Linked DNA regions of Homo sapiens: region 2 is linked to region 1. The links come from fine-mapping of genetic effects on gene expression. A gene starts in region 1. The other region holds a variant in brackets. All regions are shown on one strand. Distances are from middle to middle.

Region 1 (15,260 bases):
ATGACAATTCTTATTTGAAAGAAACACTAGCGTTCTTATCTTCCCAAGTTGGGTCAACCGACAGAAGCAAAAACTAGAACTAATTGGTCTTTTCACAATCTTAAGCAGACCATCTGTACTCGGTCTGCAACATTAGCTGCCTGGGTCACATCCTGGCTCCACCATGCATTAGCCTAGTGACCTCAGGCAAGTTATTTATATTCTCTGTGCCTCGGTTTCCTTCTGTGTAAAGTGATAGAGTAGAATGTAATGGCATCTCCCACCTAGGGTTGTTGTCTGGAGTAAATCAGTTTTGATACCAAAGTGTCTAGAACAGTGCCTCCATGAATGTATCCTTCCTTCCTTCCTTCCTTCCTTCCTTCCTTCCTTCCTTCCTTCCTTAGTTCTTTATTTTTCCCTTCCCTTACCTTTTCCTTTTTCTTTTCTTTTGAGACAGGGTCTCGCTGTGTTGCCCAGGAAGAAGCACAGTGGCTCAATCTCGGCTTGCTGCAACCTCCACCTCCTAGGTTCAAGCAATCCACCCACAGTCTCCCAAGTAGCTGGGACTATAGGTGCATGCCATCGTGCCTGGATGATTTTTACATTTCTTGTAGAGATGGAGTTTCACCATGTTGCCCAGGCTGGTCTTGAACTCCTTGGCTTAAGAAATCTGCCCACCTCGGCCCCCCAAAGTGCTAGGATTACAGGCATGAGCCACTGCATCCAGATAAATGTTAGTTTCCTATACTAATATTTTTTGTTGTTGTTGGAAAGAAGAAACTAAACAAATTTCCATTTGAAGATTTTTTAAAATCTTGATTTTGAAAGGTAAAGGTAAAGGAGATAGGAGAAAAAGGAAAAGATTCAAAAGAAATAGCAACTATCATTGTTAGTAGCATTTATGTAAAAGACACTGTGCATACCTTATATCATTTACTTGTAACAATAACTCTTTGAGACAGGTGTTACTATTAGTTATTTGAAGATAAGGCAGCTATGTCTTAGAGGTTTACTGATGTGCCCACAATCACACAGAAGATTTATGCTCTAGTCTATCTGACCCTAAGCTTGTATATTTCTTCCTCCAACTCTGGTTGATGCCCTCCACGCTAAACTACCAGATTGGGAAAATGAGGAAAGGAGGAAAAAGGTGAGGAAAACAGACTAACAGACAGAAGGGGCCTAAGGCATCATCTGCTTTTTCAGCCATAAACCGAAACTTCTATCTGTAGGGATAACATACAACATTTAATATCAAGAGTGTAATGATAAAATATGACATCATTCTTACCACTGGTGCTGAAAAATGTCACTGATACTAGTTTGGAACAGTTTATAAACACAAAGTATATTAGTATTTCTAGTTAAACAATTATGAAAATGCTACTGATTGGACATTAAAATGTGGAGATAAATTCAAGATAATCCCCAAACAATGCAGAAATAAAGTAGTATGCAAAATGTTAGGACCATCCCCCAGCTCATCACTGTTTATGTTTATGTCAACAGAAGCTCCTCTCTTTATTTAAAAATCCATAAAGCGGTTCCCAATTTAGTATGTTACTTTTCAAAACTCTGCCAAACAAAATGCCCAAATCTTTCTGTAATTACATAGCAGTTACTGCCTTGTGCCTGCACAGACTCTGTGAATCCCAACTGTCTTCCCACAAGCAACAGCAGGCTCTCCAAAAGAAAAACTTAATGTTTCATTTGGGGCAAATGTTTTTCCCTGCGCCATGCTTCGGTTTTCACTGTCATGGTACTTGGCCCCACTCTCCCTAATCATAGGTTTAAGGAGGATGAGGTCAGCCTTCCCTCTGTTGCTAAGGCTACTTGCTCATGGTTCCACTGAATTAAGGAGAACCCACTGAAGTACACTACCACTTGTCACAATGCCTCACAGTTCCCTTCATCTCAGCATATTCCCAATTCCCTAAAACTTAGTGCAGGTTTTAGGACACATGAAATAGATATCTTCCTTAGGTCCTTATCACAGGATTGTGATATTTGAAGGAAAACAATTAGCTTGGTGGATTTTGAGATCAGACAGGTAAATGTAAAAAGCTTTCCTTTTTGCTTATACAAAGTATCTCTAAAATATAAATTTTCCTTTGTTCAGACTAATCTGAATAAACTTGATGCTGACTGAGATAACTGCAGACATTCTTCAACAACAGTATCTTCCAGGTCAATTTGATGATACTCATTTCATCTGTATGTGCAGTGCAGATCTGGTCCAGAACTTAAAGTGAGAAAAATTATCACATAACAGGGGAGTCTGAATGTGATCAATAAGCCAGGTCTCTCACTGACCCATCTGGGACAGAAATCAGATGCTCCTCTAGCCTGTGAGTGGATGAATGAGAAGAGTGAGTCTGCACAGAGTGAGTTATTGTGGTCAGATTCAGAGGAAGCTGAATTCTGTGTGGCTCTGTATTCACTGCGGTTCTATTTTACAAAGTTCTGGGTAGCTCACAGCCATTTTTGACATCAGCATGTGCTGGCTTTGCAGAATGGATACTAATCAGTTTGGCATCTTGGAATGTTGCATAGAGCTTGGGAATGAGAAACTAGAGGCAAGCAATCGGTAGAAGCACCTCAAATCTGTAACATCCTAAACTGAGGTACCACCTCCCATCAGAGTGTTATATCTCATAAGCTTCCCAGCCAAATATTCCCCTAGGGCCAGACCAGAAGTCAGCACTTCCAAAGAGATTCTATGGTACAATACAATCTGTTTGGAGACTTGCAGTCATTAGACCTGCCACCCACTTGAACTCCCTGAGAGAAAACTCTGGTTGATGCCCTATTATCTTTTTTTTTTTTTTTGCTTGTTTTTTGCCTTGCTGATCCCTTTTTCTAGAGCCATCCTTCTTTCCCAGGTTTTAGTTGATTTTTACTCTTCCTTCAAAACTGAGTTCAAACTAAGTGTCCACTCATCAAGAAGACATCCATATCCATACAACTGCCCCAATCTGATTTATAAATCATTTGGTTCTTCCCCAAACCCTTTAAAAGCCATTCAGATCACCTTACACTGCCCAGTAAAATGAATCATATTTATCTGTAAAAAAACACACATATCTAAATACACTTTTTTTCAGCCCTGATCTGGCTGGTTCTTATTTTAAAAAATGCATTAGAAGAATATGCTTGTACAGCCTCTCTGTACCTCAGTTCTCTCACCTGTAAAGTGGTATAATAACAGTGCATATCTGATAGGGTCATTTTGAAGCTTAAACCAGAAAATGAATGTGAAGTTCTTAGAAGAACCACGAGCTCTTATTATTATGTGTGGAATTTATAAATAAATGTAATTTTGAGTAAGTCAATCACTTTAAACACATTTCTTCTTCTGGGAAATAGAGATAATTTTATTTCTTCACAGAATGGCAGTAAGAATCAAATGAGTTAACAGTGCATGGAAGTTATTTCCAAAGGTTCTTTACAGCTCCTTTGTGAGCTGAAAAGAACTATTTAGAAACTGGGATTTGTATTATTGTTACCTAAAGAATTACACAATGTTTTAAAGACAGAACCAAAATTTTTCAAAGAAGAGTCTTCAATGACTGACGCAAGCATGGCCTTGCACTTCTTGCTTAACCTGCCAATGCTGGACATAAAAGACAACAGATTTCAAAGGTCTATGCAGAACTGGAATTCTCTCATCTAAGTAAGACACCAGTGTCCATACCATCTGGAACTTACAGGGAACTTAGGATGTACATTGATGCTGGTTGATCCTAATTATATTGCAAAATCTATGGAATTCAAGAGCCATAAAGAATTTTTGAAATCATTTATTCCAACTCCCTCGTTTTATTGATGAGGCAACTGATGCCTATGGATCCCAAGCAACCAGCCCCAAATCACATATCAAACTAGTAATAAACAACTCAAGTCTCCTAATTTGTAGATTATAGGCTTATGTAAATTTTGTTTATATCATGTTTCCTGCCTTTTTAGGGTGGCCTTGGGTTCAAATTCCAGTTTCACCATTTATTAATTCTGTCACTTTAAGTGACTTACTGAACTGATGCAAGTCTGTCTCTTTCTTTGCAAAATAAACATCATAGCATCCTCTTAAAAGTTTACTGTATGATAAAAAGAGGTAATGTCTCTAAATCAGGTAGCAAAGCATGTGCCTGACACCTGCTTCACCACTCACCAACTTCTTATGGTAAATACTGTAACGTTTTAAAAAACTAAATCATGCATAAAGATCAAAACCATATTTTAAAATATCTCTTAAAAAAAACACAACAACTAAGGTAACTGATATGTGTGAATTTCTTTTGGTACCGAAGTGGTTAAAAAAAAATCCTTCCTTCTGGTTTAAAGCCTGGCTGTCCCAGTGCTCTCTTTCCACATAATATGCCCTTCTCCGCCAGGCGGTCACGTATGGCAGGGTATATAGTAAAGCAGTGTACAGCACAGAGCTGTACTATATCACATGTTTGCTTTCGCACCTTTGCACCTCTCCCACCAGGTACTCTGAGGCTGCCAATTCTAGCTGCTGCTTTTACTCCTCTTCCTCTCTTTGCCCAACCGCTGCTTTAAGGATGTGTCTCGCCTGAGAACAGCTCCCTTTATCAACACAAGACAGAAATTGCTCCAGAGTGACCTGGGCTCTGTCTTCCTCAGGGGGCCAGAGTCTTCTTGTCCGAGTACCTACCTGACAGCACATCTCCCCTGGCCAGCATCCACCTCCTTGTCCTCCACAACCCACTCAGCGGCTAACCTGGCCACCAACTAACTTCTCGCCCTCGGATCCTCGCGTTTATAAAAGGTGCGAGACGACCAAGTTCTACAAGGTGGGGCGGGCAGGCACCCGCACTTATCCCCTGGCCCTCCCCGCAGCAGACACAGGGACCAGGTCCAAGCTTCTTTCCTCCGGGGACAAAACTTGGCTGTTTATCTTTCCCAGGGCATCTTCGTCTCTCCCCGGGACGTGGAACCCCGATGCACCGGCAGGGACAGCCCGGAGCGCTCGCAGGAGACCAGGCCCACGGTGGTGCCATGGTTGGGCACACTCCGCGGGCTCCGCCCAATCTCCACCCCTAGGTCCAGGTCCCCCTAGGAGAGCTAGGAGCACATTTCCAGCCTGGAGCAGGAGCCCGGCACCGGAAAGTCAGAGCAGCGCACTGCGGCGCCCCAGCCACTGCGGAGCCCCTGGCCAACCGCAGTTACGTTCCATCTGTCGTATCTACATGGGAATACGGCGACAGGCACCCTATCCCCTCACGTCAGGGCTAGCAGTATGAGGTGGGGAAAGAGGAAACCTCGAGAGTTAAAAGCGAGGGAACTGAAAGTCCCCTTGAGGGGTGTCCCCCATGCCCCTTGTGGGACAAAGCCCCAATTCGCAGGCTACCCTCCAGAGCTCCAGCGGTCCGGTTCTCCCCATCAGCACCCTCTGCGCACACTGACCCGCGCGTCCCTCCGCAGCCTGACCGCCCGATCCGCCAGCCACCGGCGCGGGCAGCGAGGGGGTGTGTGCGCCAGATTTTCCGCGTGCCCCCCCGCCCCTCCAGCGGCTCCCTCGCCCTGCAGCTGCTGCTCCGGGCGCTGTCCGCGCTGGGCAGGCCGCCCCCGCGTCCCGCCGCGGCGGCCCGGGGCCCGTGCGCGCTCACCAGATGGCCATCCTGCTCTTGGGGTAGTCCAGCCGCTCCAGGCAGCCGAGGAAGTGCGGCAGCGTGTGCGCCGCGTTGCGGGCGAGGACCGCCACGAGCACCGTGGGGCTCTGCAGGGGCGACTCCGGGAAAACCACCGGCTCCTCTCCGTCGTCCTCCGAGTCCCGCTCGGCGACGAAGCGCGCTCGGCAGCCTTCGCGGAGCAGGGCTGAGGAGAGGAGCAGTAGCGACCAGGCGAGGGTGGCAGCAGGGCGCGCAGCCATGTTCCGGGCCGAGGCGGGCGGCGGGGAAGTCCTGGCGCGAGCGCCCGGCTGGGCTGCCTGAGGGCGGCGGCGGCTGCCGGGGAGCAAGGGGCTGCGAGGGGCGGCCGGGGGATGCGGCTTGCCGCGGCCGGCCGGCTCACACACTGGCCTCGGCGGCTGCGGTTCCCAGGACCCTCCCGCCGCCGCTGCACCGCCCAGGCCCCAGTGCGGGTGCGCAGCGTACCTGCAGCCGCTGGCGCTCCCCTGCGCCTCGGGCTCGCAGACAGTAGTGGCCGAGGGGCTGTGTGCCCTGAGTCCTGAGGAAAGTTCCTCTAGTCCAGGTTCCGCTCGTACAGCTGAGGTCTGTGGCCTTCCCTAGAGCCGCGAGTTGTGGCCCTGTCTGCCAATGAGCCTGTGAGTGTGTGTGTGTGTGTGTGTGTGTGTGTGTGTGTGTGTACATAACGGTACAACCCCAAGAAAATTTATTCTGCTTTTGCAAACCGCAGACTGAAGCCCTTCACAGTGATGCAATGTATCCAGTTTTCATAATGCACCTATTGACTGAGTAGAGTTCTAAAATGAAAAGTCTCCCCAACTATTCACGATTATGACAAACACTTGTTTAACCACCGCAAAGGCAGCATGTCGCATTTTCTTATATACTCAACTTCTGAAATTCATTCTTGACTGAGTAGACACCTAATAACACAAAGTTTGAAGACTTGGAGAATTTTGGAGCCAGATCAGACCCCGCAAAATAAAAGAAAGCCCTTGGGAGACACTGTCCTGAAGCCTCACTCTACTGTGAACCCAGTAAGCCTCCTCACAGGAGGGCTGTGAAAGAATAAATTCACTTAGCTGGTTTTCTTTTTCCGTAATAAGCCAATATGATAGAGTAACAAAGAGGGAAAATTCGCGCATGTTGGAGAGCAGAGAAGAGATAAGGAAGAAAAGAAGGGGTGAAGGAAGAACACAATTAGCACATAAAATGAAACTGCTGGCATACACTGCTAAAGGAGATTTACTTTTTTTTTTTTTTTTTTTTTGAGACAGGGCCTCACTCTGTTGCCGGGGCTGGAGTGCAGAGGCACGATCACAATTCACTGCAGCCTCGACCTCCTGGGCTCAAGCAATCCTCCCACCTCAGCCTCCCGAGTAGCTGGGACCACAGGTGTCCATCACCACGCCTAGCTAATTTTTTTTTTTTTTTTTTTTTTTGTAGAGACGGGTTTTCACCATTTTGCCCAGGCTGGTCTGGAACTCCTGGGCTCAAGTGATCTGCCCAACTCGGCCTCCCAAAGTGTTACGATTACAGGCATCAGCCACCATGCTCGGCTGGATATTTAGTTTTGAAGATATATTGTGTAGCCTTTGATAGATAAGTATGGAGGGTGTTTTGGTGCCAGTGCACATTCATGATCTCCAATCCCAACTCACCCTCAGGTCTGTCCCATAGTCTTTTTATTAGTTGTTATCAATCCTTCTCAGCAACTATTAGAAGTCTTCCCTACTGTCTTTTGAAGTATATCACCTCCTTCATCCAGCTCCCCCAACACCACTGTCTCCAACTAGCATCCCTACCAAGACCTTTCTTACTTGCAGGTGCCTCCTCACGACAGGGTCTTTGATCACAGACTAGAAAGGGAGAGGTCTCCCTTTCTAGCCCATGATTTTTCTCTATCATTCCACTCTCTACTGAATCTTCAACTGATCTCTATCAACTCCTTTCTCTCAAGCTAAATACTTGGTCAGTCTTCTCTTATCCGTTAAAAAAAAAAGAAAGAAAAGCTTTAAAAAAAAGTCCTGTGTCTTCTTCTAGTCATCCCTTTGCTTGACCAAGCTCCTTGGAAGAGAGATCTATACTTGTATTCTCCACTTCTTCATCTCCCATCTTTCCCACCACAGTGCAGTAAGGCGTCAGCCCTCCCCACTGTTCTGCAAAACCAACAGATGGCCTCAGCATTGGCAGATTCAGTAAACTCTTCCGTTCTCACCTTCCTGGACTTCGATTACATAATCTCCCATCCTAGATCTCCTCTGATACTACTTGTCTCTGAGCCAAGCCCCTTCACTGTGTGCCTCCCTATAGTGTGCTAGTCTTCCCACTCCATATGGTCTCCTGTGGTTATATCCTCAAAATCTATGTCTTCTGCTCTAATCTCTTCTCTAATCTTCATATTTTTTTATCGAATGGCCTACAGACATTTCCTTCCCCTCCATCCATTTTCAGGAATTGTTCCCACTTTCAAGGGGCTCACAGTCTTGTAGGGAAGACTGAGAGTTAAACATCTGTTAGAAGTACTGTAACAGATGTACCAGCTACAGTGAAGGGATAGAGGAAGATGTGGTCATTTCCACAAGGGAGGTAGTGATGGGACTGTTAGAAAGGTCCAGACAATCTCCATGTTGTTCTGTCTTTCTTGTTTCCCTTTCTTGAACTATGTCCCACTCATCTTTCAATACTAAAATCCGCACTCCTTAGCCAAACTTGGTTTGATAGTTATCATTTGTTCACTTTACTGCAAACAGAGGGAGTTTAAAGCTAGGCAACCACATTTCTGTCTTATTTTCCTTCTGTTACTGATATGGTCTGCCTATGTCCTCACCCAAATCTCACATCGAATTATAGCTCCCATAATCCCCACGTGTCGTGGGACGTAATTGAATCATGGGGGCAGGTTTTTCCCATGCTAGTCTCGTGATAGTGAATAAGCCTCACAAGATCTGATGGTTTTATAAAGGGCAGTTCCCCTGCACATGCTCCCTTGCCTGCCGCCATGTAAGGTGTGTCTTTGCTCCTCCTTTGCCTTCTGCCATGATTGTGAGGCCTCCCCAGCTATGTGGAACTGTGAGTCCACTAAACTTCTTTTTCTTTATAAATTACCCAATCTCAGCTATGTCTTTATTCACAGCGTGAGGACAGACTAATACAGTTACCTAAAGTCAACAGCTTATCTGAGTCTATTTTTTCAAAGAAAGGTGAAGCATCTAAACCTGTATGGTCTCTAATGACATTATAATGAAATCGGCTCCATGGAGTTCTCTTAAAATAACTACAACCTGCTCTGCTCTGTAGATGAAATCAAGGGTTTCCCAGCCACATAACCTACAAAACACCTATTTAAAACTTTTAATTGAGTGCTCATTTAGTGACTGAGAATATTAAGGTAATAACAGGGTATGCAACAGTAGAAGATCATTGTAAATATGGTTGGGAGGCAGTGGAGGGGAAGCCTGGGAAAAATTAAGTCCCCATCTTACTAACAGATTTGTTTCATAAGTTCTTCAGAAATCAGTAATGTGAATTTGGATGTTTCCCCCCCGCATAGGATTGATGTTATAAGACAGTTAATTTGAAAAAAAAAACTAATTTAAAAATAAAAGCCAATTATATTTTAAAATATTCATTGCTTATAATGCTCTTTCCATGGAAAATCGGCTGAATGGAAAGTCAGGGTTGTACACACATATCTCTTTGTCTCCACTGCCAGTAGACTGTTCCAATTGATTCTACATAAAGTTAGAAGTAAGCACTTTCTCTCATATCCCCTCCCCATACTGTTCCAGCACAGGGGACTTCCATCTGGGACAACAAAACCTCTTGGACTGTCACCCTTAGTGCAATGTGGTGGGGACAGGGCCTATGAGGTGGCCAGAGGACTTCTTGCAGGAAAGCTTCTCAAGATGTCTGTGGCTCCAGCAGCCCAGAAGAGGAGGAAATAAATGCCTCTGGGGCAGCTGTGATAGGCTTGAAAGAGCAACTGACACTTGGAGCTGAATTTTCATTTCACTGGTGTCACTTATTCTCTTTGTGACCTTGGAAACTTGACCTCTTTGAACATCAATTCCTTCCTAGGTAAAAAAGTTTTAAATGCTTGCCTCATTTTTTCATTCAACAAACATTTATGAAATTGCTAAATGCCAATCATTTGAGTGTTGAATATTTGAATGCTTCTCCCTTGGAAAAACAGGGAGAAAGTGGCCAGCCCCTCGTAAGTCCTGCTGGGCCATAGTTGGCAGAAAGAGTCTCTTGGCTGAATTATCCAGGCTTCTTTCTTCTGTACTGAAATATCTTTCTTTCACTACCTGGTTTGTTTTACTCGCTTTTCTGATCCATCCTAAAATCCTACAATGTAAAATGTACTTGAATTGACAATTCTGCCAATTTCAACATGAAAATCCTTGAGAGAGGAGCATTAGATGATATCTTTTTAATTCAATCAGATTTTTAAATCTTATCACCTAAACTGAAATGGCCTATAAGAAGTTTTGATAAAGGGAACTGAATGGGATCCTAATTTGAAGCATGGGTCTCTTTGGTGACAAAGCAAGTTTTATGGATTTCTGATACGTAGGCCCGAGGACTCTGGGTCCTAGGAAGGGAATTAATATTAAGGGAGAAAAAGAGCAGTGACTGAGGTGGGAAAGGCTAAAATTAAACTACGTCAGTGTCAAAGTTTTGTCTATGCTCTGGCTGCATCCAAGAGCTATAGAATAGTCACTACGGAGGAATGTTTTCCAATTCAAAACAAGTTTATACAAATGTAAACTACACTTCTACGTCTCATTTAAGAATAGATGCATCCCTTAAATTATATTAACTCATTCCTTCAAACACTTGCTCAATGCCTACTCTGTGCCAAGATATAGTTGCTGGAAATGCATGAATAAATAAGATGTGTCATATAAATGCACAAATGCTATAAGTCATTTTATGTCTTATGATGGAAAAAGGAGCATAAGTAAGGAAGTGGGGAAGTGGAGATAGCTAGGAAATGTTTAATTAAAGAGATGTCTTTGAATTGAGCATTGAAAAATAAGTAGCATGCATGGACAGGAAGAATTAATATTTTTAAAATGGCCATACTACCCAAAGCAATTTACAGATTCAATGCTATTCCTAAACTACCATTGAGATTTTTCACAGAACTAGAAAAAAACTATTTTAAAATTCATATGGAACAAAAAAGAGGCTAAATAGTCAAGGCAATCCTAAGCAAAAAGAAAAAAGCTGAAGGCATCACGCTACCCAACTTCAAACTATACTACAGGGCTAGAGTAACCAAAACAGCATGATCCTAGTACAAAAACAGACACATAGACCAATGGAACAGAACAGAGAACCCAGAAATAAGACTGCACACCTACAGCTACCTGATCTTTGACAAACCTGACAATAACAAGCAATGGGGAAAGGATTCTCTATTCAATAAATGGTGCTGGTATAATCGGCTAGCCATACACAGAAGCTTGAAACTGGACCCTTTCCTTACACCAGATACAAAAATTGACTCAAGATGGCTTATAAATGTAAATGTAAAACCCAAAACTCTAAAAACCCTAGAATACAACCTTGGCAATATCATTCAGGACATGAGCACTGGCAACGATTTCATGAAGAAGATGTGAAAAACAATTGCAACAAAAACAAAAATTGACAAATGGGATCTAATTAACTGAGCTCCTGCATAGCAAAAGAAACTATCAATAGAGTAATCAGACAACTTACAGAATGGGAGAAAAATTTTGCAAACTATGCATCTGACAAGGGTCTAATATCCAGTATCTAAAAGGAACTTAAGCAAATTTACAAGAGGGAAAAACCAAACAACTCCATTAAAAAGTGGGCAAAGGACACGAACAGATACTTTTCAAAAGAAGGTATAGATGTGGACAACAATCATATGAAGGAAAGCTCAACATCATTGATTATTGGAGAAGTTCAAGTAAAAACCACAGCGAAGAAGAGGAGGAAATAAATGCCTCTGGGGCAGCTGTGATAGGCTGAGAATTATAGGATAACCACAATGAGATACCATCTCACACCATCGGAATGGCTACTAAAAAGTCAAGAAATAACATGCTGGCAAGGTTGTGGAGAAAAAAAAAACGCTTATACACTGTTGGTGGGAGTGTAAATTAGTTGAACCATTGTAGAAGACAGTGTGGCAATTCCTCAAAGTCCTAAAGACCATCGATCAGGTAATCCCATTACTGGTTATATACCCAAAGGAATATAAATCATTCTATCATAAAGACACATGCACGTGTATGTTCATTGCAGCACTACTCACAATAATGAAGACATGGAATCAACCTAAATGCCCATCAATGATAGACTGGGTAAACAAAATGTGGTGCATACACATCATAGAATACTATGCAGCCATAAAAAAGAATGAGATAATGTCTTTTACAGGGACATGGATGGAGCTGGATGCCATTATCCTTAAGCAAACCAATGCAGGAACAGAAAACCAAATACCACATGTTCTCACTTATAAGTGGGAACTAAATGATGAGAACACATGGACACATAGAGGGGAACAACACAAACTGGGGCGTATTGGAGCATGGAAGGTGGGAGGAGAGAGAGGATCAGGAAAAATAAGTAATGGGTACTAGGTTAAATACCTGGGTAATGAAATACTCTGTATCAAAAACCCCCATGAAACAAGTTTACCTATGTAACAAATCTGCACATGTACTGCTGAACTTAAAAGCTGAAAAAAATATAATTTGATTCGAAATATAAGAAAAGAAAAATGAGTAGCATGGACTAAGAAAAGGAAGACAGAAGGGGAAAGAGATGGGAATTCCAGGTAGATGGAACTGCAGGAGCAAGGAATGAAACAGTATGACACACTTGAGAGATACAATGAACAGGGCATGGCTGGGAGATAGGATGGGAAGTAGTAACAGAGAAAGCTAGAAAATTATACGGTTTTATACAATTTTATATATAATCATTTCTTTAAAATGGGCAAAGGACTTTGAATAAACATTTCTCCAAAGAAGATATACAAATGGCCATAAGCACATGAAAAGTTTCTCAACATCACTAATCCTTAGGAAATGCAATTCAAAACTATAAGATTTATCACTTCACACTCATTAGGATGGCTACTAGAAAAACACAGAAAATAACAAATGTTGGCAAGGGTGTAGAAAAATTGGAACATTGTGCACTGTTGGTGGGAATGTAAAATGGTACAGCTGCTGTGGAAAACAGTATGACAGTTCAAGAAATTAAAAATATAATTACCATATAATCTAACACTTCTACTTCTAGCTATATACCCAAACAAATTGAAAGCAAAGTCTCAAAGAGATATTTGTGCACCCATGTTCACAGTGGCATTATTCACAATAGCTAAAATATGGAAGCAAACCAGGTGCCTATTGATTAGTGAATGGAAAAGCAAAATGTGGTATATACATACAGTGGAATAGTATTCAGTCTCAAGAAGGGAGGAAATTCTGACATATGCTACAACATGTTAACTTTGAGGGCATTATGCTAAGTGAAATAAGCCAATTTTTAAAGGCAAATATTGTATGATTCAACTTATATAAGGTAGTTAGTCAAAATTACAGAGACAAAATAGAATGGTGGTTGCCAAGGGGATGGGGGTAGGGGAAATGGGGAGTTATTGTTTAATGGGTATATGTTTCAGTTTTAAAGATAAAAGAGTCATGGAGATGGATATGAGTAATAGTTGCACAACATTATGAATGTATTTAATACCACTTAAAATAGTAAATTTTTTGTTATATGTATTTTACCACAATAAGAAAATAAGAAAAAGTCAATCCATGTGATTTATTAACAAACTTGAAAAATCATATGATCATCTCAAGAAATGCAGAGAAAGCATTTATGAATCCAACATGAATTCCTCATAAAAATTCTCAGTATATAGGAATAGAAGGGAACTTCCTCAACGTAATAAACAGCATCTACAAAAAGCCCCCAGCTAACATCATCCTTAATGGTGAAAGACTGAGTGTTCCTCCTGTGATCAGAAACAAGATAAGAATGTCAGATCTCATTACGTCTGTTTAATGTTGTACTGGATGTTTTAGATGGGGAGGAGAAGAAGGAAGGAAAGAAGGAAGAAAGGACAGAGAGAGGGAGAAGGAGAGAGGAATAGAAGAAAGCAGGGAGGGACATTTAAGCAAGGTAAATAAGCCGTAAGATATATTTTAACATGAATGTGGAGTGTTGTATTAGCCCTTCTAGGCCAAAGGCTCTAAAATTCAATGATTTATTAAAGTCTATTTTACTATAGAACTTTAAAAAATGTTGAAAATGGGGGAAAAAAAGAAAAAAATCACTCATGATCCACTACTCCACCACAACCATTAACATTTTGGGGTAATTTTAATATGGCATTTTTAATTTGCACATTTTCAATGTGGGTTTGTACTCAGTCCTCTTCAGTGAGACTCAATATCCATGTTGATAGCAGATGTTGACTAAATATCTAGAGATAGACATGGGATATTTTTTGGACCATGGATTGCTTTTGATGTCTTTTCATATTTACAAAGCCAGGCATTATTTAAGGTTGCATATATGCATCTGTTTACTTATAGAAATTGCCTAACTTACTATCACTTTGTACTCTAGATATTAGAAAAATTTTAATAAAAATATTTAATAAACATGAAATATAAACTAACAGATATAATCCATAAACTAATACATTAATTTAAATACTACTAATAAAATGGATATCCATATACCCAGCACCCACCTTGAGAAACAGAACATGACCATTAACTCTGAAGCCCTGAGTCCCTTCTTGTCACAATGCTTTGTTCCATTCCCCAGAGATAAGTACTAGACTGAATTTTGTGTTAATCAGTCTCTTCATTTTGTTTAGAACTTTACCTCCTGTGATGGTTAATTTTACGGGTCAACTTCACTACACTAGGGTGCCCAGTTTCTTGGTCAAACCAGTCTAGATATTGCTGTGAGATATTTTTCAAATGTGATTAATATTTAAATCAGTAGACTTTGAGTAAAGCAGATTACGCTTCATAATGTGGGTTGCCATCCCATCTGTTGAAGGCCTTAAAAGAATGGGATTCTCCATGAAAAAAGGAATTCTGACTCTGGATTGCCCTTGGACTCAAGACTGCAAAATAAGCTCTTTCCTGGGTCTCCAACTTGCCAGCCTGCCTTCCACAGATTTCAGGTTTTCAAGCCCCCACAATCACATGAGCCAATTCCTTAAAATCAATCTCATTCTCTCTTTTTGGTTCTGTTCTCTGGAGAACTCTGGTACATCTCCTAAATGTGTGTTAGTTTTGCCTGCATTTGAATTTTTCTTCAAATACCATACAATTCACCTATTTAAAGTACACAATGCAAAGGTTTTTAGTGTATTCATAGTTATGCAACACGATCACAATCAATTTTAGTACATTTTTATCACCACAAAAAGAAACCTATACTCATTAGTGATCAATCCTTATGTCTCCCAGCTCGTGCTACTCTCTCACTAATCTACTTTCTGTCTCTATAGATTTACCTACTTTAGACATTACACATAAATGGAATTCTACAATATGTGACCCCTTGTGATTGGCTTCTTTCACTTACTATGTTTTCAAGGTCCAT
Region 2 (15,260 bases), 72 kb before region 1:
AATATATCCTCAACCTGTCTGTTTCTCATCAACTCCTTGCTAGAGCTCACATCCCAATCACCATCATGTCCCACCAGGAGAGAGGTACTGGTCCCCTACAATCTAGTATCCTCACCACAGCCCAAATGATCCTTCTAAATGCACAAGTCACTTCAGGCCATGCCCCCTCTGCCCCACCCCATCTTCCACGGATTCCCATTACTCTTGGAGTAAAATCTAAATTCCTTACCATGGCCAGAATGTTCGGTGTGATCTGGACATTTCTTCTTCCATTACTTCATCTCCCTTGACCCAACTCATTCTTTATGCCCCAATCATGCTGGCCTTTTGTCCCTGGAACACCCCCAAGCTTTTCCTGTCTAACAGTCTTTACATGTGCTGTTCTTTCCACTTGAGACATTCTTCACCCAAATATTCATATGGCTGCTTCCCAGATATATTGTCTATTGTCTAACTCTCTGTGTTAGAATATAAGTTCCCTGATGGCAGGGCTTCTGCCTGTTTTGTTCACTGCTTTATGCCCAGCATCTTGAACAATCTGCGGGGTACAGTATGTGTTGAATAAATCCTTACAGCCTGATTATCTCTTCTAACACCTTCATTGGCTCCTTAAGATAGGAATTCTTCTTTAGCTGAAGAAGAATTCAAGGACTACAACAATGAAGCCACTCCACCCTCTCGAACTTTATTTCTGCCTACTGTTTTAAGTCAGCTCTCCTTCAGCATGAGAATACTTCGTCTTTTCTTGGTCTGTTTCCTCTGCCTGTAGTGTCCTCACCATACCACTCTTCTTGTTTAAATTTTACACTTGTACCCAAGCTTAGCCTAAGAACGATTAGGACTTGAGGCTCTCCTGGATCACACAGGCCATAGCAATCTCTCTCTATCCCAAATTCCTATTTCTTTGATATTTTCTCCTTTCTCAAAATGCTATACTGTGTTGTTAGTGTTTTTTTAACATCTGTCTGTTTCTCCTATTAAATCATACATACCTGAAAACAGAGAATTGATCATAAAATGTTTTGAATCCCTAGTACCTTCAGAGAAGACGCATACATTACAGGCATTCTATGTTTGCTCATGAACAAAATGCATATACTAATGCAAGCTTGTTCAACCATGGCCCGCAGGCCACATGTGGCCCAGGATTGCTCTGAATGTGACCCAATACAAATTTGTAAACTTTCTTAAAACGCTATGTGATTCTTTTTGTGATTTTTTTTTTAGCTCATCAGCTATTGTTGTGTTAGTATATTTTATGTGTGGCCCAAGACAATCTTTCTTCTTCCAGTGTGGCCCAGGGAAGTCAAAATATTGGACACCCCGTTCCTATTCTTCAATCAGTATAGTCTAACAACACTATTAGCAGCCATTTATTTACTGCTTATTGGGTTCTAGGCACTATGCAAAGTGTTTTTAACACCTAGTTAATCTTTTATTAGAGAAGGATACTTGACTGATAGGATTTTGTCATTACCAACTTTTTATCAATCTTACACGGACTTCTAGGCCATATTTCTTCATTATACACCTCAAAATTTTATTTTTCCAACATTTTCTTACTCCTATTGTGTTCTATATTTTTAGAATTCAGGACAGAAGGTAAGTATAAGAATGAAATAAAATGCGATATGTAAAGTGCTTAGCACTAGAGGTGGCATGTGTTGGGAGATCAATGATGAAAGCTATAATTTACAGGTTCTTCTCAAATGAACTCTACCTGGCTAGCATGGTAGTGTGCATATTTGTAATTTACAATCATTAAAATCTTTATTGATGACACGTGCATTTCTGTGTACTGAGAGCTTATACTCTCAGCCCTGTGGGAGAAAACAAGAGAACATAAGGTCTGGCTGGCCTCTCTCTGAGGCCAGAGAGACTCTCCCTACTTGGGAGTCGAGACCGAGAGCCATGAAACAGGGATAATAAGGGACAGCACTTTATCGAGAGGTAAATGGAGTCATAATAATAGCAACACCTCATTATTTTATGGAGTTGATATAGTCTTTTATTTGCTCTTCTCAACATTGCAAAATCACTCTATAGATGAAGAAACTGAAGTCCTGAAATCTGATTCTCCCTTCAAAAGCGACAGTGTCTAAGTTCAAGCCCATTATTCTCGCTTTGGGTTCAGTGCCCTTGTCAATACAGTTTTCATTCATTCATTTGCTCATTTGTTCATGCATTCAGCAGATTTTTTTTGGTAACAACTACATGCCACGCACTGTGCTAGGTGCTTGGAATACAAAGCAATAAGATGCCACCCATATCCTTTAGGGCCTAGAACATAGGGAAAGTGGCAGAAAAAGTATGTATTAAAGAAATTCGCAAAGGAGATTCCTGAGGGCTGGTTCAAGAAATACTGTCACAGTGAACCAGCTCCTTATTTCATCATTTCATCATCATTCATTCAGTCATTTAACAAATATTTGCTGGGCATCTACCACGTGACAGACAATGTGCTAGGTCCTGAGACTAATATGATGAAAAAGGAATTTATAGTGTAGGAGCAAGGGAGTGGGAAGCAGATACTCATAGACAACTCAATGGATCTAAAAATAAACTCATGGTCTCTGTTTTCTTTTCTTTTCTTTTTCTCTTTCTTTTTTTTTTTTTTTTTTTTTTTGAGATGGAGTCTCACTCTGTCACTCAGGCTGGAGTGCAATGGCGCGATCTTGGCTCACTGCAACCTCTGCCTCCTGGGTTCAAGCAATTCTCCTGCCTCAGCCTTCCGAGTAACTGGGACTACAGATGTGCACTACCATGCCCAGCTTATTTTTGTATTTTTAGTAGAGACAGGTTTCACCATGTTGGCCAGGCTGATCTTGAACTCCTGACCTCAGGTGATCCACCTGCCTCAGCCTCCTAAAGTGCTGGGATTACAGCCATGAGCCACCATGCCAGCCATGGTCTCTCTTTTCAAACCTCTCCTTTATGCTACATGCCCTATTCCATTTAAAGTTCCTAAAATCACCCCCAGACACTCAAGACAGAACTTGGGAGTTTTCTCTATGCCTCCCTTTTGCTCATCTACCTACAATCAACTCTTGGCTATGTCCTTTCAAGCCTATGTCCTAAGCTTCTGTTCCTTCCTCTCCATTCCCACTGTTACTGCTCTAGCTCAGGTCCTCACCACCTTTTGCCCAGTAGCCGTGAAATGTCCAAAGTGGTCTCTTCACCCCTGGCCTGAGACCAGCAGCCACTGCCCATGCATCCCATGCATGCTCCACCTACACTTTTCTTACCTGTAGAGTGACCTTTCTAAATCCAAATTCAACCTGACATTTCTGTGCTAAAATCTTTTTGAGCGTGCCTGTCCTTTCAGCTGAAGCCCAAATGCCTTCTTATACATCAGAGCCTCTTGGCGGGGCTCCTGCCCACTTTCTAGCCTCAGTTTCTGCTGTTCCTCCCTAACCACCTCCACTGCCCACGTTCACACCCCCGTGCTCTACTGATGAATAACAGAAAATAGTCCCTGCTTTGGGAAGCCATTTCAACATCTTCCCCTAGGTTAGGTGGATTGGTTACTTTCTCTTTTAGCCACCATTGTACATCACACATAATAAAAAGCATAGCTACTGATGACTGAGCACAGCAATTCATGCATCATGCCAGACCCAGAGGCAATAACAATAGTGTTTAAGGACATGAACTTTGGAGATAGCAAGATGGGTTCAAATCCCAATCTGTCATTTGTTTAGCAGAATGATCTAGGGCAAGTTACTTAAGGTAACATCTCATTGTTTTTCATCTTTAATATGGGCATAATAAAAACCCTTCATTGAATTGTTGCAAGGATTAATGAAACAACAATGAAACAGTTTTGTACACTTTAATGTACAAAAAGTGCTTAGCATTTTATGATGTAACAGTGATATCTGTTACATCATGAGCTATTATTAAGTTAAAGTCATAACTACTGTGGCTGTATTAGCCTTTTTACATATACCATAATGAATCTGCCCAAAAACCCTGGAAGTTTTCATTATTTCCATTTTACAACTAAGGATATTACTTGCTCAAAGTCATATAATTAGAAAGCAGCCAAGTTAGGGTTTAAGTCCACACCACAAAACACTATTATAGCACTTATCAGATCTTTTGGAAAGTATTTACTTGTGTACCCAGCGCTCTTCCAGGATGGGAAGCTCCCACATGGCAAAGACCTTGTCATATTCATATTTCCCATAGGAAAAATTTAGGAAAGAATGAACAAATAAATAGCTATGTATTCAGCCAGGGGAGACTGATGGCTGTGAGATTCCAATCCTGGAAGAGGAGGGAAGTGGCTGGTATGGTCACTGTGGCAATGGAACGAGAGCCATCCCCTCTGCTCCTGGGTCACTCACTCATTGCTTCAATCTGCACATGGATGAGGTTCTCGATGTCTTCCTGCAGTGTCTGATGGGGCTTCAGGGGGATGGGCAGGTAGCCATAGTGCTCTCTGTTGCAGAGGTACATCTGGATGCCTGAGGATCCAAGAGAGGGACAAAGCCAACAATCAGAAAACATACTGCTGAGTGACAAGCGAGGAGAAGGAACCTGAACTGTGTCTGATGCTGAGTTTGACACTGCAATTAAATAAGTGGTTGTTTCAGGTATGTCTATAGACCTAAAAAATGCTCCTTTATTAAAAAAGTAAAACACAGCATTGGGGACTAATAAAAACACTCGGCTATTCTTCAGCCCAGAGGAAATTGATTTTTTCCCTCTGAAGAAAAAGCAAACTCATGGCCTGGAATGAACAAAAAAGGCATGAAAGGATCAAAAGGGAGGCAAGGAATTCCCATTCTGGAGAGCAGAATGGAACACTGTAATCCACCTACAGGAAATAACAAGAAAATGAGGAATGAAATCCACATTTGATATGAAAGCAAACAGGAAAATTCTGTAACGCTGACAGATTATTAAAGCTAAATCTAGGCATACATAGAACAAAAAAACGAAAAAACGAAGGAAATTTAAAATTCTCCAAGATTCTCCCTGGTTTTATTGCTTCCCTTAGCAGGCATGGATTTGGAGCCAACCAACAGACATGAAACTTCCAAAATCAGTTCATATAGAGACAAAAGAGTCTGCATTTCAGAATGTCCTGTTAAGAACCTGTAGTGTGACAATACCAGAAGTATGCAATACCCTTCTCATATTCAAATTGTTCTTCATAGCCCCACCTGATAACTTGCAGAGTTATAAGGCATCTGTGTTTAACCAGACAGCTAGAAATATAGGAATCAGGATGGTCTCATACACATCATTGGTCAGCAATTGACACTCCTGATCAATGATAAGACTGCTTAGTGAAAAGGATGAGTCCGCCATGTATCCAAGCCTCTGGTCCATGTATCCAAGCCTGTGATTTGTTAATTGCGATAATTGTCAGTGTTTTCCAGAGAGATAATTATCTGCATAGGGACTCCTCTATTTTGTGCAGATGAAATTTCCTCCAGTCAGCTACATCATCTGTCAAATCAGGTGAAGCTGTCTCATGGCATTAACAGAGAGGAAGGAGAAAAGAAAATAACCTTTATTCCCTGCTTTTACTGAATCTGGCTTGAATCAAGGCTGGTCTACCAAGCACTGTCCCTTCTCTTGCCTTCACCGAGCAAACTCATTAGCTCTGCTGTTTGCCCATATGAATGCTTCTGGGGAGCTTCAAAGTGCACCTTCTTGTAAAGTCATGATGAATTCAGGAAGTGGAAGGAAAAATATATTAAAGTTGCATCTCTACCCTAATTAGGCAAACCATTTTACCATTTAACTTTCTGAGGCTTCCATAAAAAAATGATATGATACCTATCCAAATTATCCATCAAGTGTGAGGGTACAAGGAAGGCATTTTTAGACATGCAAGACCATAATATATTTACTTGCCATCATACTTTCTCAGAAAGCTGCTGGATGATGTGAGAGAAGGACGAGGAGGAAAGGAAGGAAGAGGAGGAGGAGGAAGAAGAGGAGGACGATTATAACCAACAAGAAAGATTATAAACAACATGAACAGGAGAGTCAGTGTATAAGAGAAGAGAAATAAGTCTTAGGTTGATAGCTTCAGCACCACTTGGATTAGAATATATTAGAAAGCTCCAGAACAGACGTCTTCGCAAATATGCAAAAAAGGACATCTGACAAATCTGGACATTCTGAGAGGAGTTTGAGGTAATTAGTGATTAGTTTTGGATCATACTAGTAATAATAAAACTAAGCAAAAAAGGCAATTATTAAAGGAATTGCCTCCAAAGAATGGCAAAGGAAAACTAATCATAGCCTATGAATGACCAAGCTTGGAGTTAGGCTTGCATGATTACAACAAGAACACTGACCATCAATCTGTTTGAAATTACAATGGGAGAACAGGGTGATGAGAAGAATGTGTTTGCATGCAGAGGGCAAAAAGGAAGAAAAAGAGCTAACTCCTCACAGTCTATAGTGGAGAGTCAACAAATAATGCCCACGGTGAAGCCAGAAAATCAAGAAGTAGCAATGCATGCATATTATTTAACATGGAAGTAAATATTAGAGATAAAAGTGGTTGCCTTCTGGAGGACAGAAGTGATGCAGGGTGATGTGCAGGGGACTGTTCATTTCTTAATAAACCATGGGGAACTATATGAATACTTTCAACCATGTGCATGGGCAGTTTGATAACAGAAAATTTAAAAGAAAATGTATTAATAATTAGATAAAGTCTATGAAAGAGTCTGCACTCCCAGTGAATGCTGCTTCTGGGGAAGACAATTTTTCTTTTGAAAAAGAGAAGTGAATTACGCTACATTTTGAAGGACTGTTTTTCTTTTAAACATATTAAACATTTTCTTGTACTCATATAGTACCTTAACATTGCAGATTGATGTAATTATCCCTATCTTTGGTGATGAAAAATCAGATTCAGGCTGTCACTTGTCCAAGGTCACATAGTAAGTCATTAGTGCCAAATCTTTGTCCCTAAAGAGCCAATGCCAAGTGCTTTCTACCCAGTCAGTAATTGGAAGCTCAGTTCCAAGACCATTAGTCACTAGGGGATTGCCATCCCTCCACAAGGGGACAAATTTGATCACTACCAGTGGTGTTCAGGATCTGTCTGCCCATTGCCCATATCACTCACCTCTTTTGACTCACATCAGACATTTGGAAGACGACTGGCTGGC[A/G]CTGGGATGATTCCTGTGGCCATGATACAGAACCCAGATCACTGGCCACAATGGGAGGTGAACTCTTGACCCTGGACTCATTACAGGAACAGAGACGCGCCTATGACCATATGTGCTCTCTTCTTGGGCTAGAAGGGTGGCCAAGCCCTGCTCACCAGCACACTTGGATTGCTCCTCACTCATCACCCACATGGGGCAATGGCTAGAGTCTGGGGTGAAAGATTTAGGACCAAGGTTTGTGGTTGGATGGTCCTGCCTGGGACATAGATGATACACAGCTAGGGAGCTTCAGAAGAGTGAGAACAAAAGAATACCAATCATATTTCATGAAGAAAGAGGAAAGTGCTTTGCTTTGAAACTAAGGAAGGAAGAGCCTGGAGACATGCCCTGGGCTGCACATGACTCCCAGGCTCATTCATGTTTCTCTTGAAAATACTTAGAGATAAGTACAATATTACCTTAAAATCCACAGTTGTCAAGAAAGACCTTTCATTTCCCCAAAATGACAGTGAATCTTTCCTGCCTTGACTCCTGCCCTGTTCATGGTCTGCACCGCCAGTCTGGCCCTTAGCTTTCACTGCTTCATGACTATTAGTTGTGTTTTCACATGTAAAAATCTTAACTCCCAACTAACACCGTGCCAGGAACAGAAGGAAACACTTGGGAGTTCATCCTCTCTCTTTCCTTTTCTATCTCCTCTTCCCAAATGAGTCACCAAACAACTTTGGGTGTCTACCTGCTTTCAATGTTCTAAAAAAGCCTTTTCAAAGTCTGACCAATAACACACAAAATCCTGGTGAACAGGCCAAGCACAGGGCAGAGCTGAAAAATTCCTGCTTAACCTGAATCATTTTTCCCATACCAATATCCAGGTATTGGTTTCATACAATGTATCATAATAATTTAGTTCATTGCATCATAATAATGCTTTGTGCAGTGACTATAAAGGAGGACTCTGTTAGGCAGTGTCATTCGTGTAATTGTTAATATCTCACTTTCTTGGAACATCCTAACTTCAACCTCTGAAGGAAAGGGATTGGCACTCAAAGGACTCAAAAAGCCCTGACTTTGCTTCCCATCCTGGGGAAGTCAGAGCAAATCACAGACCAACTGAAAGAAGGAGTTTCCATTAACACTGACATAGGAATCTTTACAAAAATCTTCCAATCATATGAGGATTGCTTTTGCCTAGACATAAGGGCTACAAAATGCCTACACCTGGCCAAAGGGTCTAAATTGCTCCAGCAGCCAAGGGGGAAATCAGCCTGACCCATTTCTACCAAATATTCTTATTCTCAGCAAATCTACAACTGATGAGTGGGACATCTATGGCTTTAAGGAGAGTCTGATGTGTGAATTGTAGCTTGAATTTGTATTAACATTCTCATCTGCCAGCCACTTCCTCAGCTGCCGGAGGATCTTTGCACCATCTTTTCCACCCTCAGTTATATGGCCACAGTGAGTTTATTCACCATCTTCTTGGTTTATGAACGTATTTTTGCTAGTGGTTAAGTGACACATTTCTGGCACATTAATAATGGGACCCAACTTCTGTCAGGAAAGTCTGAATTATCCTAACAAAGCTTTGCTCTGTTAGATGCCATGTGTCTTGCTGTTGAACTGCTCTTGTGAATTTTGTCCTCCTGAAGCAAGTGTAGGGTGAAATGAGAGAAATAACTTTCCTTCCTGTTGACTTGTCTTTCTCAAAAATCTCCAGGCCCCACTAGAAATGCTTTCCCAGTGGTTCATAAAAGACCTCAGTCTCGCTTTGCCTCTCCTTCCACAGGGACTGAGGCTGAGACTGTTCGGTGCCTCTTTATCTGTTCTTTCCTTCTTCTAGAGTGTGAAAATTGCAGTGCATGCATGCAGAGAATAAAGACGACATTCTGAGCCTCCCTTACAGTGAGGTATTGTCCTGTGACTAAGCTCTAGCTAACAGGATTTGCATGGAAGTACTGCATTCAACTTCTGGATTGCACACTTCAAGGGACAGGGAGAGTTCTCCCTGTTGTTTCTGCCTTGCTGGCTGAAACGCATCCATGGTGGTGAGACACCTGGGACTCCACAATTAAGGGCAGTACCTCGTGGAGTGTGAGAAGCAATACACAAGAAGCCTGGGACTCTGAACACTTTGTGGAACAAAGCCACTACAGCAGCTCAGACTTTTTCAAGAAGAAATAAACTTCCATTTTTAAAGTCTGGGGTCTTTGCCAGTGTTGTTTTAGGCCTCTGTGACAGTTTCCTAATTAATAAATGAACTTCTATAATAAACAATTGCAATGCAGTAGCACCACAGAGAAGCAATCACCTTCCCATAATTCCCAATATCACCACCAGTCCCTCCAACTCAAAATAGAGTGGGTTCCTGGGTAGAGGCCAGCCCTGGCTCTTGGTCATTGGTGCTCCCAGGGACAGCAACATAGAGGGTGCTGGTATGGTTATTGCAGACAATTTACTGCCTCTCACTACCAGACATATGAGGGTTTTTTTTTTTAATAAAATGCACAAAACAAAGGAGCTGGTCATTTTGCTGTGTCTCCATTGTGGCACTACAACCAAAGACAAACAGTACCTGCTTGCCTGCTGGAGAAGGCAAAGACAATGATGTCATCAAAGGTCCAGGTGTAGTCCTGGTGTGGGGGGTAGAAAGTCAGCTTGTCCGAGGCCTCCTTCCTGAGGTCAATTAGGAAGGTGGAGTGGACCATGGGGACGGGGAAGCAGCCTGTCCTCTTCCATTCTCGAATCTGAACGTAGTCTGGGGTCCTCTTATAGAAGCCCTGTAAAAGAGCAAATAGGTGGGTTGTGTTTTCTGATTTGAAGTCTTCATCCTTCTCAGTCATTTGCTAGACTGATTCCTTTCAAGTCATTACCAGCTATATACAAGCTCCCAAACAAAGCCACCTTCACTCCTCTTATCATGGCCTATGAATTTCCAAGTGAGCACAAGAAATGCTGTCTACATATAAAATAATACTAAAAGGGTCTTGATATAAGAAGTAACTTTTATTTCAGCATATCTCTAGATTTAATAATTTCATAAAAGTGTATTTTATGTTGACTTATGATTAAATATGAAGCATGAGTATTAAGAAGTGGCAGAGCAGTTAAGGGCACAGGTTCCAGTGTCAGACTCCCTGAGTTCAAATCCTACCTCAGCTACTTATTGTCTGTAGGTATGGGTCAAGTGACTCAACCTTGCTGCGCTTATTTCCTCATCTCTAAAACAGGGATGACGGCACTATCTACTCCATGGGGTTAGCTGTAAAATTTAAGTAAGGTAGAACCTGAATAGTGTTGAGACTACTGCCCAGCACCAAGAATGTATCAGCAAATACCGGCTCCTATTAAAATGACATTACACTGTGGCTAATATTTGTAATTAAACATGCATTACTTAGATATACAAATGAGGGTCTTCTTTCAATGCAGTTACTTAGTCAATATTCTGGTGAAGCTGCAGCTGCTCCATAGTTTTTGGGGATTCAGCTTCTGAAACGTCCTTCTGCACAAGCACACAGGACAACCAATTTCCTTATTCCAAAGCTTGAATCATTTCCAGAAAAGATGAAGATATATCTCAACAAAACATGCTTACAAAACATACTTGTGGAAGCTTTGCCAGGCATTTTGGAAAATGTTCTAGGTGATGGCAGGCTCACTGGAATGAGTGTTAAGTTTTGCAAAGCCAGCACTCCGAAGGGCACCATACTCTGGAAGTTCTTATGTGTTCATTAATCAGTTGCATCACTTCATGGTTACATTTCCTGTTGTAATTCAGCATCCACACATAAGGTGCTACAGCCTCACCTACTTCTCTGACATTCCCTTCAGGTTCTAGAAGAGTGTCCTAGCTGAGCTAACCCTAATGCCGACCCCATGATAAGGGAGGAGGATCAAAAATGAGGACTCAGAAGATGTGGGTCTCAGAGTCATCTTAATCACCTTCTAGCCGTTTGATCTTAGTCCATGCCTACCCTCTTTGAGCCTGAGTTTTTTCTCCTGAAAAATGGGATAACAGCTGCTCTGTCAATCTCATAGAGCTGCAGAATGAATCACATGTGATAAGGTCTATGAACCTATTTTGGGAACTGCAATTCATTATATGAAGTATTATCATTACTATAATGTTTTTATTAGCCTTTAACTTAAGGATCATTTAACATCCTCTATGGTTTTCCTAATACTTCAGCTTATGAGCAGTCTTCCAAGAGATAAAGGGGACTCGGGTTTTTTAAAGGGCTGCCTAAGTACTTGCGTCTAATATAAAGTTCTAGATTACTTAGGAACAATATTCCCAGAATGATTAGCTTGGAAAATCCATGATGATGATGAATCACTGAATATCCTTGGGGTGGGGGTGAGAAGGAAGGAAGCAGGGAGAGTGAGGGAGAATAAATGTGCCTCCTGCAAAGAGGCAGAGATGATGAATGTGTTCCTTTTTCCACATAAATTGAATCTTGTTGGTAATAATTCCTGTTCATTGGCCAGACAACATCAAGGACATTTTGTTTTGAATGAGTTTAAAGGCTCTGGGAACCAGGTCCTGCTTTGAATTTATGAAGTCACTGGCCCTTTCTATTCCTGCTCTAGTAGAGACTAACTGGGATGGTAGAAAGCCAAAAATAAATGGAGGAAAATAATACTTGTCCCTAAGTTGCTCAGAATTTAGTTTTACTGTACAAAACAAGTGAGCACATTTCTCCTATTTGCTTTTAAGCCTGAAAGTAAATAAGGAGATAATACAAATTTGTAGGCTGCGGCCACTAGGATAACCCACCCTTGTTGCTGATGTCAAAGCACAACTCATTAAAAACAACCCTCAAGTGATTCTGCCATGTGAAACACTGAAAATGTATGAATTTAAACCAATATAATGTTTTCTCCCAAGGAAGTGAATGGCTGTTAGAAATATGAACATATTACCTTCCCAAAAGAGACACAGAAAATAGCACGCATTCAAAATCTCTTACAGCTAGAAGAAATAATTACAACAAAAGAGGAATGCTTCATCCAGTGGTGTACTGGACCACACATTGTTAAATTTTCAGAAAGTTTGCAAACCAGTTGACATGTTGATAGCTTGGAATCCATAAAAACAAAAATCACGTTAATCCCCACCACTCTAATGACACCTCATGTGGCAGTTTTACATGTTTTTAATAGCTGTATCATCAAGTGGCTATACTGCAGTTTACTTAACCTTTCCCTTAGCTTAACAACATTTAAGCTGTTTGCATGGTGGGAGTATTTAAACCATAAAAATTGGCAATGCTACCAACTAGGGTTTTTCCCACAAAGAGCCAGTTATTAAACATTTATCAGCACACTACTGACCTTATTTCTCATCCAAAACAAAACCAAATATAAAGGGGAGACTCAAACTTTAGCCCTTTGGCCATGAGAATACATTGAACATACTCCCTCTTTTTTTGAGACAGGGTCTCAGTTGCTTAGGCTGCAGTGCAGTGGTGTGATCATAGCTCACTGCAGCCTCAACTTCTTGGGCTCAAGCAATACTCCCTGCTCAGCCTCCCGAATAGATGGAACTATAGGTGTGCACGACACCACAACTGGTTAATTTTTTGATTTGTTGTAGAGATGTGGTTTCGCCATGTTGCTCATGTTGGTCTCAAACTCCTGGGTTCAAGTAATTGTCCTACCTCAGCTTCCCAAAGTGTTGAAATTACAGGCATGAGACACTGCTCCTGGCCAACATATTTTGCTTAGCACATTTTTATCCTACATTGATACATATTACATTAATCAGTTGAATTTATCTAATTCTTTAATTAAAGAATAAAAAATATAACCAGCCATGAGCATTCACTAAAACAGACCACTATTTTGAAGATTTTACTATGAAAAAAAGAAATAATAAAAAATCAAACCTTTTTTAACTTGAATTTTATAAAAATAACCTACCATGGTAGTTTTCATTATTAGAACTCTTTGGAAATAAATTTGGCAACATACATCGAAGGTCATTGAAATATTTGTACTTTTTTTTTTTTTTTCTTTTTTGAGAGGGAGTCTCGCTCTGTCACCCAGGCTGGAGCGCAGTGGCGCGACCTCGGCTCACTGCAAGCTCCGCCTCCCAAGTTCACGCCATTCTCCTGCCTCAGCCTTCCGAGTAGCTGGGACTATAGGCGCCCAACACCACGCCTGGCTAATTTTTTATATTTTTAGTAGAGATGAGGTTTCACCATGTTAGCCAGGATGGTCTCAATCTCCTGACCTTGTAATCCGCCCGCCTTGGCCTCCCAAAGTGCTGGGATCACAGGTGTGAGCCACCGCGCCTGGCATATTTGTACTGTTTGACTCAGTAATTCCACTTCTAAAAAGCTATCCTAAGGATATAATCTTAAATGCTGAAAAATTATATTAATCATGACGGTCACGATAGTTAAAAAGTTGTGAATAATTTAAATGTTTTTCAAACCGAGATAAAGGTTAAGTAAATTGGAACATAGCCACTTGATGATAACACAGTTACTAAAAACGTGCAAGTTTCTATCTATGATGTTGTTACGGTGATGGGGATTTAACATCTGTCTTGTTGGTTTTCTTTTAAACTTTTTTTAATTTCTAAGTTTTTCTATAGTGTTCTTATGTTAGTTTTGTAAGGACAAAAAGAATTAATTAAAAATAGTAATTCCTGAATCAGGAATTGGCTAATTTGACGTTTCTAAGGCTAAGCTCTTTAGACTATTTTTTTCATAATAAATTAACACAGAAGAGCCCAACTGGGTGTAGCATTGGACCCAGATTTACTGCCCTTCCTAAAAAATGCTTGCTCTGGGAACACAATGACACGCATGTTTCAAGGGAGTAAACAAGAGAAAGGTGAATGGGACTACTGTTGACCGGGTGTTGCCTTGTTAAAACTAGTAGCCTTAATTCATTTAAGCAAAAGACTTGCCTTAGGGGTGATTCCGCACCAGAAATTAGAATACAGGCCCCGAGACTCCAGCATGGGGGCCACAATAGTTTTGTTTTCTGCAATCAGTAGATTGAGGGTCTGTGGATTAGTCAGGAAATTGTCAACATCTATGAACTAGGAAAAGAAAAGGATAATGTTAGGTGAAAAGGTACTTTTCAGTAATGAGTTTGAGAATAACCCAGCCCTTCTGAAGGATCCCAGAAACTTGCTCATGACATATGGAACCAGCTATCTATGTCCTCCTTATTGAAACCCATTGCAGCTAGGTGGCTTTCATTCAGTCAAAATATATTTAGTCTAACTTTCGTATGTTGGGCTCTGCATAAGGCACTAAGCAGTAAATTGGTGCTGCCATACTGGGCATAGCCTCAACCAGGAACCAACCTACACTTTGGCTAGTGTTTTAGGCACAAGATATTAATGGCTCCCAAGCCATTAAAGGTTCATTCAAAAACACTTATTGGCTGCCCAGTCTAGGTACAGATGGGCATGCCTACTTAGCTTTTCTATAGTAATGCCAGAGTAGCTCAAAACAGATCTATCAATGAATTTTAATGTGACAAGTAGAATTTTTGTTTAAGTACATTATATCAACCCATGCTAACCAGTGAAGCTATTTCCTATTCTTAGAAGTCCATGTTAACAGTGATTTATTTAGAGACAGTATAACAACAGATTCTAATTTATAAAAGAAATAATCATACTGAACTATACACTGAAAAAGGGATAAACTGACAGATTTTACCTTTTGTAGGTTTTATCACAATAAAAAATTCAGAAGTCTTCATTTTTATGATAGTCCATCTGTTTACCCCAAATTTTGTGATTTAACATTTGTACACTTCAATGGCATTTAAACAGCTACACAATGTTAAATATTGTCAGTACAATTTGAAAACTTCTATGAAAGGATTTGTGTCACAAGTGTGCGTGATACATTTTTGGGCAGATTTTCACTGTGGTTGAGGGGATGGGGATGGACATAAATTCTCCAAAGAGAGCATCACTGTGCCAAGCAACAGATGCTACTCCCCAGATCATTCAGGAGCAAAAGGGAACCATTTCAGAGCTGTTCAGCTGAATCACTTTTTTAGATAATTACTTTTTCATATCCCCCAAATTCTTCCAAAAAGTTGTAAGAACAACTTACATTGCTTTACCTACAGCCTTTCCTG

Direction of the effects. Positions count from the first base shown, and alleles are read on the strand shown. Sizes are in standard deviations (SD) of each study's normalised expression.
For the expression in cerebellum of the gene that starts at base 6,243 in region 1, allele G in region 2 goes with a higher level than allele A (small effect, 0.32 SD a copy in GTEx).

The links.
Region 2: its variant is fine-mapped to the expression of COLGALT2 in cerebellum (GTEx, PIP above 0.99). The same link has a PIP of 0.9 or more in adrenal gland, esophagus muscle, fibroblasts, hypothalamus, lung and putamen.

What each region holds. Positions count from the first base shown.
Region 1 is chr1:184,031,486-184,046,745 of GRCh38, forward strand. It overlaps COLGALT2 (collagen beta(1-O)galactosyltransferase 2), which reads right to left and starts at 6,243. Exons shown (of 12, transcript NM_015101.4): 1 at 5,610-6,243. The coding sequence starts at 5,872. RefSeq lists silencers at 1-224, 5,966-6,055.
Region 2 is chr1:183,959,552-183,974,811 of GRCh38, forward strand. It overlaps COLGALT2 (collagen beta(1-O)galactosyltransferase 2), which reads right to left. Exons shown (of 12, transcript NM_015101.4): 4 at 14,065-14,199; 5 at 9,718-9,922; 6 at 4,350-4,469. Among named protein-coding and RNA genes, the nearest start is that of COLGALT2, 71 kb to the right of the region's middle. The variant A/G (reference allele first, on the strand shown) is at 7,146.